Linked DNA regions of Homo sapiens. The protein of the gene in region 1 interacts with the protein of each later gene in a biochemical or structural test. Each region holds a gene or a part of one and is shown on either strand. Other genes may lie near its edges.

Region 1 (7,026 bases):
ATTTCTTAGCAATGTGATACTCTGCCAATGTAATTTGCTGACTTTTCATACTGGAGATATGGTGGCCAATTAAGTAAGTCGCAAATTCTCCTAAAGGAATTAAAATGACACAGTGATCACCAATCTTTGGATGACAATTATAATTATGGTCTTGAAGTAAAGCAGGGGCAAATGCAGACACATTTTAAGGTTACTACTGGTTTTTATAATCCAAAGATTTCTTCACACATGCCAAAATAGAGGATACTATTCCTCCTCAGCATTACTACATCTGTGCAGTATCAATTGAACATGTTTAATAAAGTAAACAGTGTTTAGAAAATGCTAAGTACAAGGTAACCTTATCCATCCAGACTGCCTGTTTAAAATTCCAGGTTATCTTACCAATTATATAAAAAGATAAAGTGTTTATCCTACTGAGATAATGGTAAGGCAAGGCTGTCTTTCCAGTCATGGAGCTGTTTGAAATCTCTGACCTGGGTACAAGTCCTAAGGTAGCTCAGTATATTAGTTGCTTTTACAGATGCAAATATCTTTTCTTGATTCCAGCTATTTCAGATGTAACAAACCATATTATATGTACAACTACTCAATGATCAACCCTCTCAGCAGCTAAAATCCCTCAAATTTAATAGGACACAAGAATTTTCTCTAGTAATTATTAGAATAAATGTTAATAAACTTATTTTCATAAAGATAAAATTTCTCCAATAAATCTCTTGCATTTGTAATTCCATTTAGGTGTCTGCTTCCCAGAAGACCAAACTGATATAACTATCCTTATAAGATTGTTCCAAAAATTGGAAATAATAACATAGTTCCCGGCTTTTGATAGCTAGACAACAAAGATTATCTTCCTTCAACTGTGAAACATTAGAAGGTCAGGGCTGGGCAATACATTCCTCTGTCTGTTCAGTGCCTTAATCATACATTCCACTGTGTAATTGGGCTTCACTAACAGGCAGCGTGAAGTGAAACTTAACAGAGCACGCCATGCTCCAAGCTATCAAATTATCTTCAGGGTAGGTAACCAGGTACATGTGTGTATGGGTGGATGGGTTAGGGGGTAGGAAATTGTCTTTGGAGCCAGATAGATCTAGAATAGATTGAATCCTAATTTGCTATGTCACCTTAGGGAAATCGTTTAATGTCTCTGTTTTCAGTTGCCTAAACTATAAAATGGAGATAATATGGCCTATCTCACCAGGTAACTGTGAAGATTAGAGATAATCTATGTAAAGCATCTAGCACACTGTGTGGCCAACTGTAAGCATCTAATGAAAGGATGCATTATTACTCTTATCGTCTGAACATCCTTTCATTTATTCACTCATTCCACAAATATATATTATGGGTCTACTATGATAGGGAACTGACATACAACAGTGAGCCAGAGGGGCACGGGTTCTTACAGAGTCTACTGGACCAGACATGACGTCACACAAAGTGTATCCAGTAATTATAATAAGAAAACTTAGACGGTGCTTCTTATGTTCCTGGCGCTGTTCTAACAGCTTTACCACATATTCACTCACTCAATCCTTACACCAATCCCATGAGATAGGTACTTGCCCAAGATTACATAACTAGTCAGTGTGGATTCAAAACCCAAATATCTGGCTCCAGAGTCTGTGCTTTTACAGGTTATGCTGTGTTGCCCTCTCTAAACATTTGAATCAGATTTCATGCTTCCATAGAGCTTAAACAATCCTACACAAGTGTATAAAACAATCTAGTGAATCCATTGAGTAAGAAGGACAGTTATTTCCTTTACAGAAACATAGGCACAGAAATAGTAAGTCAGTGGGAAAAGTGGAGAGACTGGCCACTGGGGACCCAGTGCCATGTGATAGCAGTTCCATCTCCCACCCCATCCCACCATTGCTCACCTTCTAACCCAGCAGCTGTTTTCTGGCAATGGCACTAGAAGAAGAGTTGCTATAATTTCGTTTTTCATCTGACTCAGCCCTGACTCTTTCATCTACTATAACCACAGGGCCTCTCTAGTTCCAATCAATTCTTGACCTTCAGTGTCATAATCTTTTATGCCTGCTGGAATTTTCTTGCAGAAGAGTTAAAGGAAGATCAAATTGGTATGTTTTCTTTTGTTCTTTTCTTAAGCGTATCCATGTGACTGGAGGCTGAATGCTAAGTGGTTTGCTGCATGTTTGCAAAGCAAACAAGGTAGCAGTGAGAAGAACAGACCCCGGACACTAAGTTCATTTCTTATTACAAGGCAAACACCATCCACATCTGGATGCCTGAATACAAGCAACATAACAGCAGCAGTTTGTTCCAAGAAATCTTTTAGATGACAACATACCATCATCACCATCATTTTAGAATGAAAACAACAATATGAAGAAAAAAAAACCCACCCTCTTCTAACTAGTCAAGAATGATGAAGACAAAAAATGATCATACTTACTGGGGGGCATTGTGCAAGTTTATCAGCTGCCACCAGTTGAACATTCAAGTGTTTACTTTGTGACTTTCCTCTAGATTTAATCAACCGCTGTAAAACCTGATAGAAGAAGACATGAACCTGAGGTATTGTAGATGAGTTGAAAGAAAATCAAATAAGCCAGGATCTTTTTAATGGTCTGCTTGGCCCTGAGTATTATCAGAGAGGAAATGCAGTGTGAGAAATCATATATTTAAACCTGTAATGATGTCATCTGCTTACATTGGCTCTCAGTTCCATGGATTTGATATGTTCATCCTATTCTAACTCTGTGTGAAGTCTCAGGAGGAGCCTGAGTTCCCATCCTAGATTTTTCCCAGAGATTTCAAAGAGAGACCTGTAAAAATGGAGGGAGTGGACTGTACCAGGTCATTTATGTTAAGTAATACTTTAATATTATTCACCTGAATAATGTTTTAGCTCACTATCTCCATGTCAGATAAATGTCAGAGTCATTTTCTGGTTATTTTTGTCACCGATTATTAATGGGACATTTCAGTTTAATTTTAAATTAATCAGACTATTCTGTGATTGGAGACCCAGGCAAAACATTTGTATTAGTATATTGCTACATGTAAACCAGTGATATATCTATGTCTTTTGGCCACTGCTGTAACTGCATTTGGTCATATACTGCCATGTCCCGTGGCCCTTCCCCTGCAAACAATGCTAATCTATGAGCTCTATAATACCCCAGGACATAGGTGTCTGGGAACTCCTGTTCTTGCACTTAAGGACACCACAGTGTCATGGGCAGTGGGAAGGGCTGAACTCTCCTGCACTGCAGTGAAGTGCTTGAACCCCCAGCAGCTCTTTCAATCCATTCTACTGATTCTCAAAAGGCCCTAGTTTGTTCAGGATTCCCAAGTCCACTGCACCAAAGCAGTGTCTGCAGAGATAGATGGAAGGCTAGGATCTCAGAACATCTGGAGGAGAGTACAGCTTCTTTAGACATTCTCCACCCATGAGAGAAGACTGCCATGCTGGTTGGCAGTTGAATTTGTATTTAGGCACCAAAATACACTAGGAGGCACAGAGAAGAAACTGATTATTAAGATAGTACTTCCCAAGGGTAACCATTTCACGTTAACTTTTTAAGAACAACATCCTTTTTTAAAAATGAAAGAACACCCAAATCAAAAGAAACCAATTTGGGGCTATTTCACTTTTATTTTTACCTCCCACAATGGCATAAAGATACAAAGCAAATTTCCCATTGTGCTTATCGTGGAATAACCACATTCTTTCAAGAACTCAACCTAAGCACAAATGTCAGGGTCTATAATGCTTCCATAGGAGATGTTTAAACAGTGATATTCTATTTTATATATGATCAACATAGATGCCTTTTTTGATCAATATAGATGTACTCTCTCAACTAGGTACAGAGTATGGATGACACAGGAATCAACAGGATCCAAGAAATTTACCAATATAGAATTCATAGTCTATGATAAGCCAGAGTCTACTTTTCCACATCTGTCTTAATGTTTTGTTTCTATTATACACTTGCATAACTGTCTTGTTTGGGATCTACAATAGTAGCTTTTAGAAGAAATGAACTATTATATTCTTCACTATCTGAAAATTCATAGAATCTGTACACTGTGGAAAGATTTTAAATGTGCTTATTAATAATCAGCAAGACGTTCTCCTTTGTCCACTAACAAAAAACCACAGAGCAAAACACATTTTTAAAAGATGCACTTCTAAACCTTAAGGCAGAAAGGAGCTAATTACCTTTGGAGATGAGACTTTTACATGAACAATAATTGGTGCTAAGGAAGTCTTTATAAGTTGTGCTGGGTGATTGATGGTGTCTGCATCAAGAACAACCAGTTGCAAAGATCTTGCCAACTCAAAGATTCTTTCAATTTCACTTTGTACTTCCGCTTAAAGGAAAAATAATAAATAGATCCCGGTTATTGTTATGAATTAGTTCTTACATTAGAAAGATATAGTATATTTTCAGATATGTTGGTCTACATTACAAAATAAAACATTTTAAATTTTCATAGTCCTGTCTAATTTAAGACATTTTCTAAATATAGACAGAGATGGGTTGAGTTTTGCATACAACCAGTTGGTAGAAACGTCTGAGATGGCTCTCTTAATTTGCTTCTTCTAGTCAATATAATATTTAGCTGTTTATATAACTACGATGATTATTTTATGTTGTTTTTGATTGTTGTTTTGTTCTAAAGAACTTTAATGTTAGCCATAGAAGCTAAAAGCACATTTAGAAAACAACTGAAATATATGTGCAAAGCAACATCACATGGAAAGCAAATTACACTGAAATATTTCTATCAACGAAGTATAAACTAATACTTTGTGGACATGCTTCTTTTAAAAAAACCCCACAACTCATCTGTTTTGACTGATATGCATATTTTTGTACCACTGGTTAATTGTTCTGAGTCTACCCTTAAAACTAATCATATTACTAAGTCTAGTTAGATTTAAGTACGAAAGCCAATGTACTTGTTCTAAGGCATAATTAGCTTCAGTATTAAAAAAAAAAAAGTAAGGCCAATTATATTAAAACGCTGCAATGCATCTAGATGCAAATCTATCTGGCTGGCTGTAATAGCCAAGTGACCCAAATCTGTGCATGAGTCTAGTCAAATGAAAAATCTACTCTTTTCAAATGTCTGAAGCAATCCAGTTTTTTTTTTTTTTAAGGAAAACAGATAATCAACATAGGACATGGCTTTCTGAAATATAAAAAAGTTTTATATATATATATATTTTATAAATTACCTGACTTATTGGATCATGCCCAAAGTCTGAATTATACTATTTGATTTTCAGAGAAATTGATTTGTTTTCGTTTTTGAGACACAGTTTCACTCTGTTGCCTAGGCTGGAGTGCAGTGGCATGATCTTGGCTCACTGTAACCTCTACCTCCCGGGTTCAAGTGATTCTTGTACCTCAGCCTCCCACATAAATGGGATTATAGGCACACGCCACCATGCCTGGCTAACTTTTGTATTATTAGTAGAAGCGAGATTTAGCCATGTTGGCCAGGCTGGTCTTGAACTCTTGAACTCTTGACCTCAAGTGATGCACCCACCTTGGTCTCCCAAAGTGGTGGGACTACAGGCATGAGCCACTGTGCCCAGCTGATTTTGTTTTTTATTTTTATTTTTTGGCTATAGGTGTGACCAAACAATGCTGTAATCTGGTCCAAAGTACATACAGTACACAAAACTATCTAACTTAAATTATTATTATTAATTTTTAGAGACAGGGTCTCACTCTGTGTCCCATGCTGGAGTGCAGTGGTACAATCACAGCTCACTGCAGCCTCAACCTTCTGGGCTCAAGTGATCCTCCCACCTCAGCTTGCCGAGTAGCTGGGACTACAGGTGCACATCACTGTGCCTGGCTAAATTTTTTATTTTTTGTAGAGACTGGGTCTCACTAAGTTTCCCAGGTTGGTCTTGAACTCCAAAGTCCAAGCAATCCTCCTGCCTTGGCCTCCTGAAGTGTTGGCATCACAGGTGTGAGCCATTGTACCCGGCCTTAAACGACCCTAAAGATGGCCTAGGGAAAAAGGTAATGTTGCTCTAAATATCCTCATTGAAAAGTGTTTGTGATTTGCTTTGCTTATTTAGTATAAATTCAAGTTCACATAGCCCACCAAAAAATTCTCCCTTCCTTAACCAAAAGGATTGACAAGGTGTGCAGGGTCATGAATACTCAAGACTATCATGAAAATCTATTTTCTTATGTTTTGCATGATTGCATAAAATTCTTATTTCCCATAGAATCACTGAAGTTTAAGGCATGATCTGTATTAAAAAGGATTAATTTGAAGAGTCAACATATCACTTTTCATGTTATCCAATACCAATGGCCTGAAAGACTTCACATTGCTTGGAAAGGTGACTAGCTTTCAGAATATTAATGAAAACAAGTGGGCTTATTTGTCAAATTCTTCTGAAATCATATTCTACATTTGTTAGTAATGTAGCATATTTGTCCCCTTTTCTCTCACATGGCAGAAACAGTTTTAAAATAAATTTTCTTCAGAAGGAAGTTTGGAAAATAAAGTCAATTTTTACTGTAGTAAATTTCAGCCTCAGGATGTCAGGGTATGTTTCCCATTTGCTGTTTTCATTAAACTGTCACTGGCTTATGGGAGCTCCTGGCCAGGACTACATGTGAGCAAGCCTATGTTTTCTTAAGCTTCAAATATGAATACAATATTTTCAGAAGCAGCAGAAAGACATTGATGTGAACTGGACTGCCCTGGTACAAATAACCCTCAAGGCACTCTGAGTTTCTGTGTAAATGACTCAGAAATACCTGGGCCTTATTTACTCTGCACCAGCAATGAGGTTAAGTGTGGTTTCTGCCAGGAGCAAGGGCAGCCATACCTACTGCTTAACCAACACAAAACTCTTAGGCAACAGGCACTTGGGCAGAGGAAGAGAGGTGCTTGGGCAGAACAAGCCAGCAGGGATGCTGGAGAAGGCCACATTAAATACTGGGGTGAGCCCAATGTTTGGATAATATGTATACAGAATGTAATAAATATATTTTATCTGTGAGG
Region 2 (6,898 bases), on another chromosome or scaffold:
AAACATTTTTTTTTAATGGCAGAAATATTTAGATTAAAAAGTAGAATGTTCTGCCCTGGTATCGTGACTCTGACATTCCACGTGTCTTTCTCTTTACACTGGCCTGAATTCTTTTATTCACTACCTCCCTCCCCAGGTCTCTGTCCATCCCCTCTCATCTCCAACCCTCCCACCCACCCCGCCACCGCCCTCCGCTCCATCCAGGACAGAGAAAGCTCAGTCCTGGATGACCCAGCTCGATGACAGATTGTGAGGTGGGGAGTTTTCCCTTCCAGAGTAGGGCTGTATAATGTGTTTGTTACCTCGGGTCAAAGAGAACAAAAACAGTCTGCAGAGAGCATAATGCACAAACTCATCATAAGAGCAAGAAAGCCCCGGGCGAGCTGGCCAGAGAATAGATGAAGTGGCAAGCAACACTCGCAATTCACCTGCCTCCCTCTCCCACGATTCCCCCTTCCGAGGGGCCACTGCAATCCCCCTCTCCCCCAACAGCCCTCCAATCTGCAGGATTCAGGCTGGACAGAGGTAAGCTAAGGACACAGCAGAAGGGCTCCCCACCTCCTTCCTTTCCTCTTAGAAGTCTCCAAATCCAGGCTCCAGAAGGCGATCTAAAGCCATTTTCAATGAGGAAACCTGTCAGCCGAGCAAAGCCCTCTCACTCCTGGAGCTAACTGGGTGTGCACCCATGAATACCCTGTCCTCCTGCAAGGCACTCCCACTCCTCACTCTGTTGATAGGCAGAGTAATCAAGCCACCCCTGAGCACTTCAATGGGCCTGGGATGGTGAGGAATTGCTAACCTTAAGAACCAGCCTCTTTAAGAGTCTGAAACTTAGGAAGCAAAGACCTGGCACCTGCTTTGGGCACCAACGGAGATGGCATCGTAGTTAGAGGTATGCTCCCCTCAAAAGCACCTCTGCTGAACTTCTTAATTTTCCCCACCCTCAAAGTAGACCACTCACACACTCCAAAACCTCAGTGCCCTCTGTTGCAATCCCAGCACCCAGGATCCAAGCGCCAGGCTCGATTTTGAACCCCCCTGAAGTGAGTCCCTCTACCACCCGCCATGCTCCTCAAACAGCAACCCCCGGAGACCACACAGGGCCCAGCCCCGTTTAGTCTATAACTGCAAAACCACATACAAAAGGGATAGGGGACTCATCGCTGAGCCCCAGGGACCCATCCAGCCCGTTCATTTTTACACAGAGGGCAGCTGGTTGGAACTGTGCGGAGAAGCGGCACATCTGGGCATGGCACAGTGGCCAGCCAGCCTGGGCAGCAGGGTGTGTCCCCCCTCCTGGAATCTGGGTCATGCTTAGATAACTGCTAGAAAGCCCGACTAATTACCCACCCTTGCCTGCCTACATCTCGATAGATGTTAAGCCCTCCTCAAGGTTTATTTCAAGCAGGCAGGGATTTAAAGAAACACAGAAGATCTGCATTTTGATAGCATCTCCACAGAAGAAAATGTGGGCTTCACCTTTTTCCTCTGGATCTTTGATTAAAAAAAAAAAAATTTAAAAGGCATTTACCTACCTAAGATGTCCACATGGGTGCTGATTCTCCTGGTGTTCCCTCTCGGCTACTCGGGGTAGGAAAAGCTGGACATGGTGCTCTAAAATGGACCCACCACCTCATTTGCTGTTGCCCTGTCTTTCTTACTGAAAGTGTCCAGATCAGGTCTTCCCAGGCCAGGGGCCCAGATAAAGCAAGTGGGATCTCTTTCTCGACACCCCCAAAGATGATGAGGTTCCCCAATCAGCGGTTAAAGGCAATGGGACCTGCACACATGAGGGAAACATAAGCGCCCCCCAGCCCATCACTATCCTCTCCAGATAGGAACAGCGGCCCACCCTGGGGTACTCACTTCGGCCAGTGCTGGCTTCTCAGTGTGAAGGCCACATGGACTCCCTCTTGCTCTTAGCCCTGGGAGCCCCCAAGCGCCCTGCCCTAAAAGTGCGGCGGCCCCCCACCTTGGGGAAAGCAGTAGTGGAGAGGCTGTCCAGCTTCCCCTGCGTGGACTCCAGTGAGCGACGGCCAAGAAAACCCAACCAAGGCCCCCATAGTTCCCCTGCCCTGGCCAGAAGCGCCCAGGCCCGAGCCCGCTCCAAGCTCACTCCGTAGAACTCCAAACCCTCCGGACTTGGCTCGAAAGCCCCCACCAAGGCTCCTGCACGACCCCAGGCCCCAGATCTCATTCTAGAGTCGGTCCTTGGGAAGGATCCACTCTCCGCTGCCCACCCCCCAGCCCCCCACAAACCCATTCCCAAGCCTCCAGGGTAGCTCAACCCAGCTCGGGGTGGAGAGATTCTTTCACACTCCTCCCGGTGCCCCCTCTCCCAGCCCCTGGAAGACCCCCCTCCTCCCCACCTCCCATCAACCCCCGGGTCTCTCTCCCAGCCTGGAAGAGGGGAGGCGGAGGGAGGAGGGGGAGGCGCAGCTGCTGCTGGGGTTCGGGCAAAAGGATATGGCCATTCGGTGATCTTTTTGGCGTATTTTCTCACCACGTTGTCTTCGCTGAAGAGGAAGAGAGACCGGTTAACCGTGAGGCAGTTCTGTCGGACGGGGATGGGGTTGTAGAGTGCCATGGTCCGCGCTCTCTGCGCCATTGACTGCTTGTACATCCTTTGCGCCCCGGGCTGCCCGCCCTGCCGGCTGCCCCCGGCTCCTCGCCCGCCTCCGCTGCCCACGACCACCCCGGCGGCTGCCCCGGAGCCTCCTCCCCCGTAGCGGGCCGGCATCTCGTCTCCGAAGCGGGCCATTCTGCAAAGAGCAAAGGGCTCCGGGTTACGCTGCGGCGAACGATGCGGAAGACGCCGCCGCCGCCGCCGCCGCCGCTGATGCTGAGGCTGCCGGGGCTGGGAGCGCGGCGGCTGGAGCTACGACTGCGGAGACGCTCCACGGCCCAGCCCATCGGGCGGCGGCGGCTCGGCGCCTCGGGTCGGGGGCTCAGAAGGCGGCTGCCCGGGCCGAGCCGGGGATAGCAGCTCGGGACATCTTCCTGGCTGACCCCGGAGAAGGAGGGGCGGGAGGAGGGTGCGGGGGCGGGGCGCGGGGGCCCGGGGAGGAGGGGGGAGGGGAGAGAGAAGCGAGGCAAAAAATAACCGAGGAAGGAATCCAGGCAATCCCCAGTCCACCCACTCCGGAAAAAAAAAAAAAGAGACAGTTAAAAAAAAAAAATCCACCCAACGCACACCCCCTTTAAGACGCGAACGGTTTGCAAAGGACGCCCCCCCCGGGACGCAGTGGAAGCTTCAAATTCCTCCGAGGTCCGGGTCAGGCTGGCATCTTGCAAAAGGAGTGCGCTCGGCCCATTAAAAAAAAATAAAAAATAAAAAATAAAAAAATATATATATATTTAAAAATAAAGAAAGACGAAACCCAGGTCTGGGTGGGGAGGGCAAAAAAAAAAAAAAAAAAAATTAAGTGCCCTTCTGTTTTGCTGGAGTTCCTAGACCTTAAAAATGCTGAAAGATCTGTAGCTCCAAAAATAAAATAAAATAAAAACAAAGAAGATGAAAGGGAAGGGAAAGAGGAGGGAAGGGGAGTAAGACGCTCCAGAGGGTTCCTAAGGAGTCTTCACACCGCAGGGTCCAGGTTTAAAAAAAAAAAAAAAAATTTTTTTTCTTCCTGAATCACCAACGGCTGCCTCTTCTGCTCCCGGAGGAAGTGTGAGTGTGTATGTGCGCACAGCGTTTCGCTCAATGGTGCCTCATCTTGGGGTTAAATTGCAGCAGTGAAATCCTGAAAATTCCCAACAGGGGGAAAAGAGAGAGAGAGAGAGGTATGCGCCCTCCGCTTAGCCACTCAATAGCTGCCCCTGGATGCGGCAATGCCTCTCCACCCTCCAAATCCCTCCACCTCCTCCTTCTCTAGGTTTTGCTAAAATAAGACTGGTGTGGAGGGTTGCGGGTAGAAGAAGGTAAAGAGGAAAAAAAAATGGGCGCAAAGGTCTGAACCACTGGCCAGCAAACGGAAAAGGGGAGCAATTGATGAGTTTAACAGTAGAAGGACCCACCCAGAGTGTCGACACATGAGGGCCCGCGACCAATCGTGGAGGCTCGTGGAGGCGCGGGGGTACCGGGCTCAGCGGAGTTTGTGGGGGAGAGAGGGGAGCGTCGCATGGTTGGGAGGCAGGGAGGGGGGAATTGGGGTGCTTCCTCCTCCCCTGGGAGGAAAGCCTGTTTTCCACCCCGTTCCATTTCGGTTGCAGACAGCCGGACGCTCCCCAGCATCTTGCAAGGAGAAGGCAGGATGGAGGCAGGAAAAAAACTTAAAAGACAGAAAAGAGAAGGGGATTTGTGTCTAGAGGTGCGATTCGTCAGTCTCTAAACAAATTTGCTCTGTTTAGCAAAAGACCATTTTTGAAAGTGGAGAGAGTGGTTTGGGGTTACTTCTGTGAACGTTTCAAATCACAAGGACTCCTGCAAGTTGGAATTAAAGGTTTATTCTACCTTGGAGACCCCAGAGGTGACAAGTCTGAACTCCCAGGAGGAAATAATTAACCAGGTCCTAGTTGGCTGGATAGGGGTTCTGGGTGGTATAGTTTGCTTGATACTCACGTCTCTCCAGAACCACTTTGATTACTTCCCATTCTGCTTTTTGTGTGGTGAAATTCAATAAGCACAAAGAAAAATGCATAAAACATAAAGGTACGGAGTTAAGAAATTGGTCTGAAATGAACACTCATGAAATCAAGTCTAGGGCTAGAAATGGAACATCACCACCTCTGCAGAACCCCCTTTGCCAACACGCTTACACAGCCCCTTATTCCAGCAATAATCGCTACCTGACTTTATGGTATTCATATCTTGCTTTTTTAAAAAAAGTTTGACTACCTTATTATGCGTTCCTAACCAATACAATTTTACTTTGCTTCTTTTGGGCTTTTATATAAATGGAATAATCATATAGTATATATTCTACAGTTTCTTGTTTCTTCGGTTCAACATTATGTCTTTAAGATTCATCTGGCAGGGCACGGTGTCTGCGCCTGTAATCCCAGCACTTTGGGAGGCAGAGCATGAGGATTGCTTGAGGCCAGGGGTTTGAGACAAGCCTGGGCAATATAGCAAGACCCTGTCTCTCCAAAAACCTTTTTTAAAATAAAAATTAACCAGGCATGGTGATGTGAACCTAGTCCCAGCTACTTAGGAGGCTGAGATGGGAAGATCCCTTGAGTCCAGGATGTTGCAGTGAGCCAAGATCAAACCACTGCCCTCCAGCCTGGGCAACAAAGTGAGACTCTGTCAAACAAAACAAAACAAAACAAAAACAAACAAACAAAAAAAACAAGATTCATACATCCTAATCTGTTTCGAATTTTAGAAAAATTCACCTGTTTGTTGTCACACATGGCTGTGATTCATTCACTTTCACTGCTGTATAGTATTTCATCAAGAGAATATGCCACAATTTGTTTATCCATCATCTTGTTGATGGGTATCTGTTTTTTTTCCAGTTGGGGCTATTAAACATTACTGCCTCAGGTACCTTTGGTGCAGATAAGAATGCATGTCTCTAGGAATAGCCTTAGGTGTGGAATGTCTGGGTCCACAAGGTATTCATATCTTCAAGCTTATAAGATGTCATCAAACTGTCTTGCAAATTCAATGTACCAAGAAACCATTGAATTTTCATGGAGCTTGTATACGCAGAAAGGCCAAATGGAGAGGAATGGGAAAAGGATGAAAAAGGCAAATATTCTTTCAAGCCTTAGCTAGTTAAATCCTAGTTAATTCCCTTCCCCCCTCGCCACCCCACACACACATATCAATATTCGAGTTCTTTTGGAACACTCTGGAAAGATGATATGTCTTTATATAAAGTCCCCGTTCTGTGCCAATGCACCAACTATTATACATTGCCCCATAGCACTTTCAAGATTTTCTAACTTGTCACGATATGGATGAAATGATTAAACCAAGAGTGATTGGAATTGCAAGGAGATAGAATTGTGTGGGATTCAGGGAGAAGGAGGGGCTTTTAAGGCGCTCACCAAATATCAGTGATTTTTGTACTTGACATTGTTTCAGATATAAAAGGTGAACAGCAACTAATATGAAACAAGAAGCGAGCCCATGTGTTCAGATGGGAAGAACCAGTCATATGAGAGGAGCTGAGTTGAACTTATCATTTGTTCTGATGGACCTCTCTGAGAAGATTATTCAGTTTTAGAGCAGGAGCATTACCTGCATAGATCTGTGAAGACCCCAGAGTTTTTCAGGAAAGAGTGACATCTCACTGATGGAGCTCCTGCCAGGGTAAATCTCCCACTGAGTCTTCACAGCAGCCCCGTGGAACAGATGCAAACACTGAGGGTGAGGGAGACTTAAAAACTTTCCCAAGGTCACTAACGTGGATCTGAACCCATTTCTGACTCTTGTATTCTGTTGGACAGAGGGGAATTTGGTACAACCACTTTGGAAAACCGTTGGCTGGGTGCAGTGGCTCACATCTGTAATCCTAGTATTTTGGTGGGCAGAGGCAGGAGGACTGCTTGAGCCCAGGAGTTCAAGAGCAGCCTGGGCAACATAGTGAGACCCTGCCTCTACAAAAGGAAGGAAGGAAGGAAGGGAGGGAGGGAGGGAGGGAGGGAGGGGGGAGGGAAAGAAAGAGAGAAAGAAAAGAGAAGAAAGAGAGAAAGAAAAGAAAGAGAAAGAAAGAAAAGAAAAAAGAAAAGAAAAGGTCAGGAAATAAATAAATTAGTTGAGCATGGTGGTGCATGCCTATAGTCCCAGCTACTGGGGAGGCCAAAGTGGGAGGATTGTGTGAGCCCAGGAGTTTGAGGCTGCAATGAGCCAAGATCATGCACTCCAGTGTGGGAGACAGTCAAGTCTCAAAAAACAAACAACGACAACAAACACATAAAAAGAAAAACTTTTTGGTCATTTCTATTA

Evidence for each region. The genes of interacting proteins can lie anywhere in the genome.
Region 2: the proteins of CACNB4 (region 1) and CACNA1A form a complex in vitro, tested with the Homo sapiens proteins (2 studies listed by BioGRID).

Annotation. Positions count from the first base shown.
Region 1 is NC_000002.12:151,851,020-151,858,045, forward strand, and holds part of CACNB4 (voltage-dependent L-type calcium channel subunit beta-4), read right to left. Parts: intron 4,357-7,026; coding exon 4,205-4,356; intron 2,525-4,204; coding exon 2,429-2,524; intron 1-2,428. UniProt on the Homo sapiens protein: The beta subunit of voltage-dependent calcium channels contributes to the function of the calcium channel by increasing peak calcium current, shifting the voltage dependencies of activation and inactivation, modulating G protein inhibition and controlling the alpha-1 subunit membrane targeting.
Region 2 is NC_000019.10:13,503,464-13,510,361, forward strand, and holds the start of CACNA1A (voltage-dependent P/Q-type calcium channel subunit alpha-1A), read right to left. Parts: upstream 3,017-6,898; 5' UTR 2,762-3,016; coding exon 2,469-2,761; intron 1-2,468.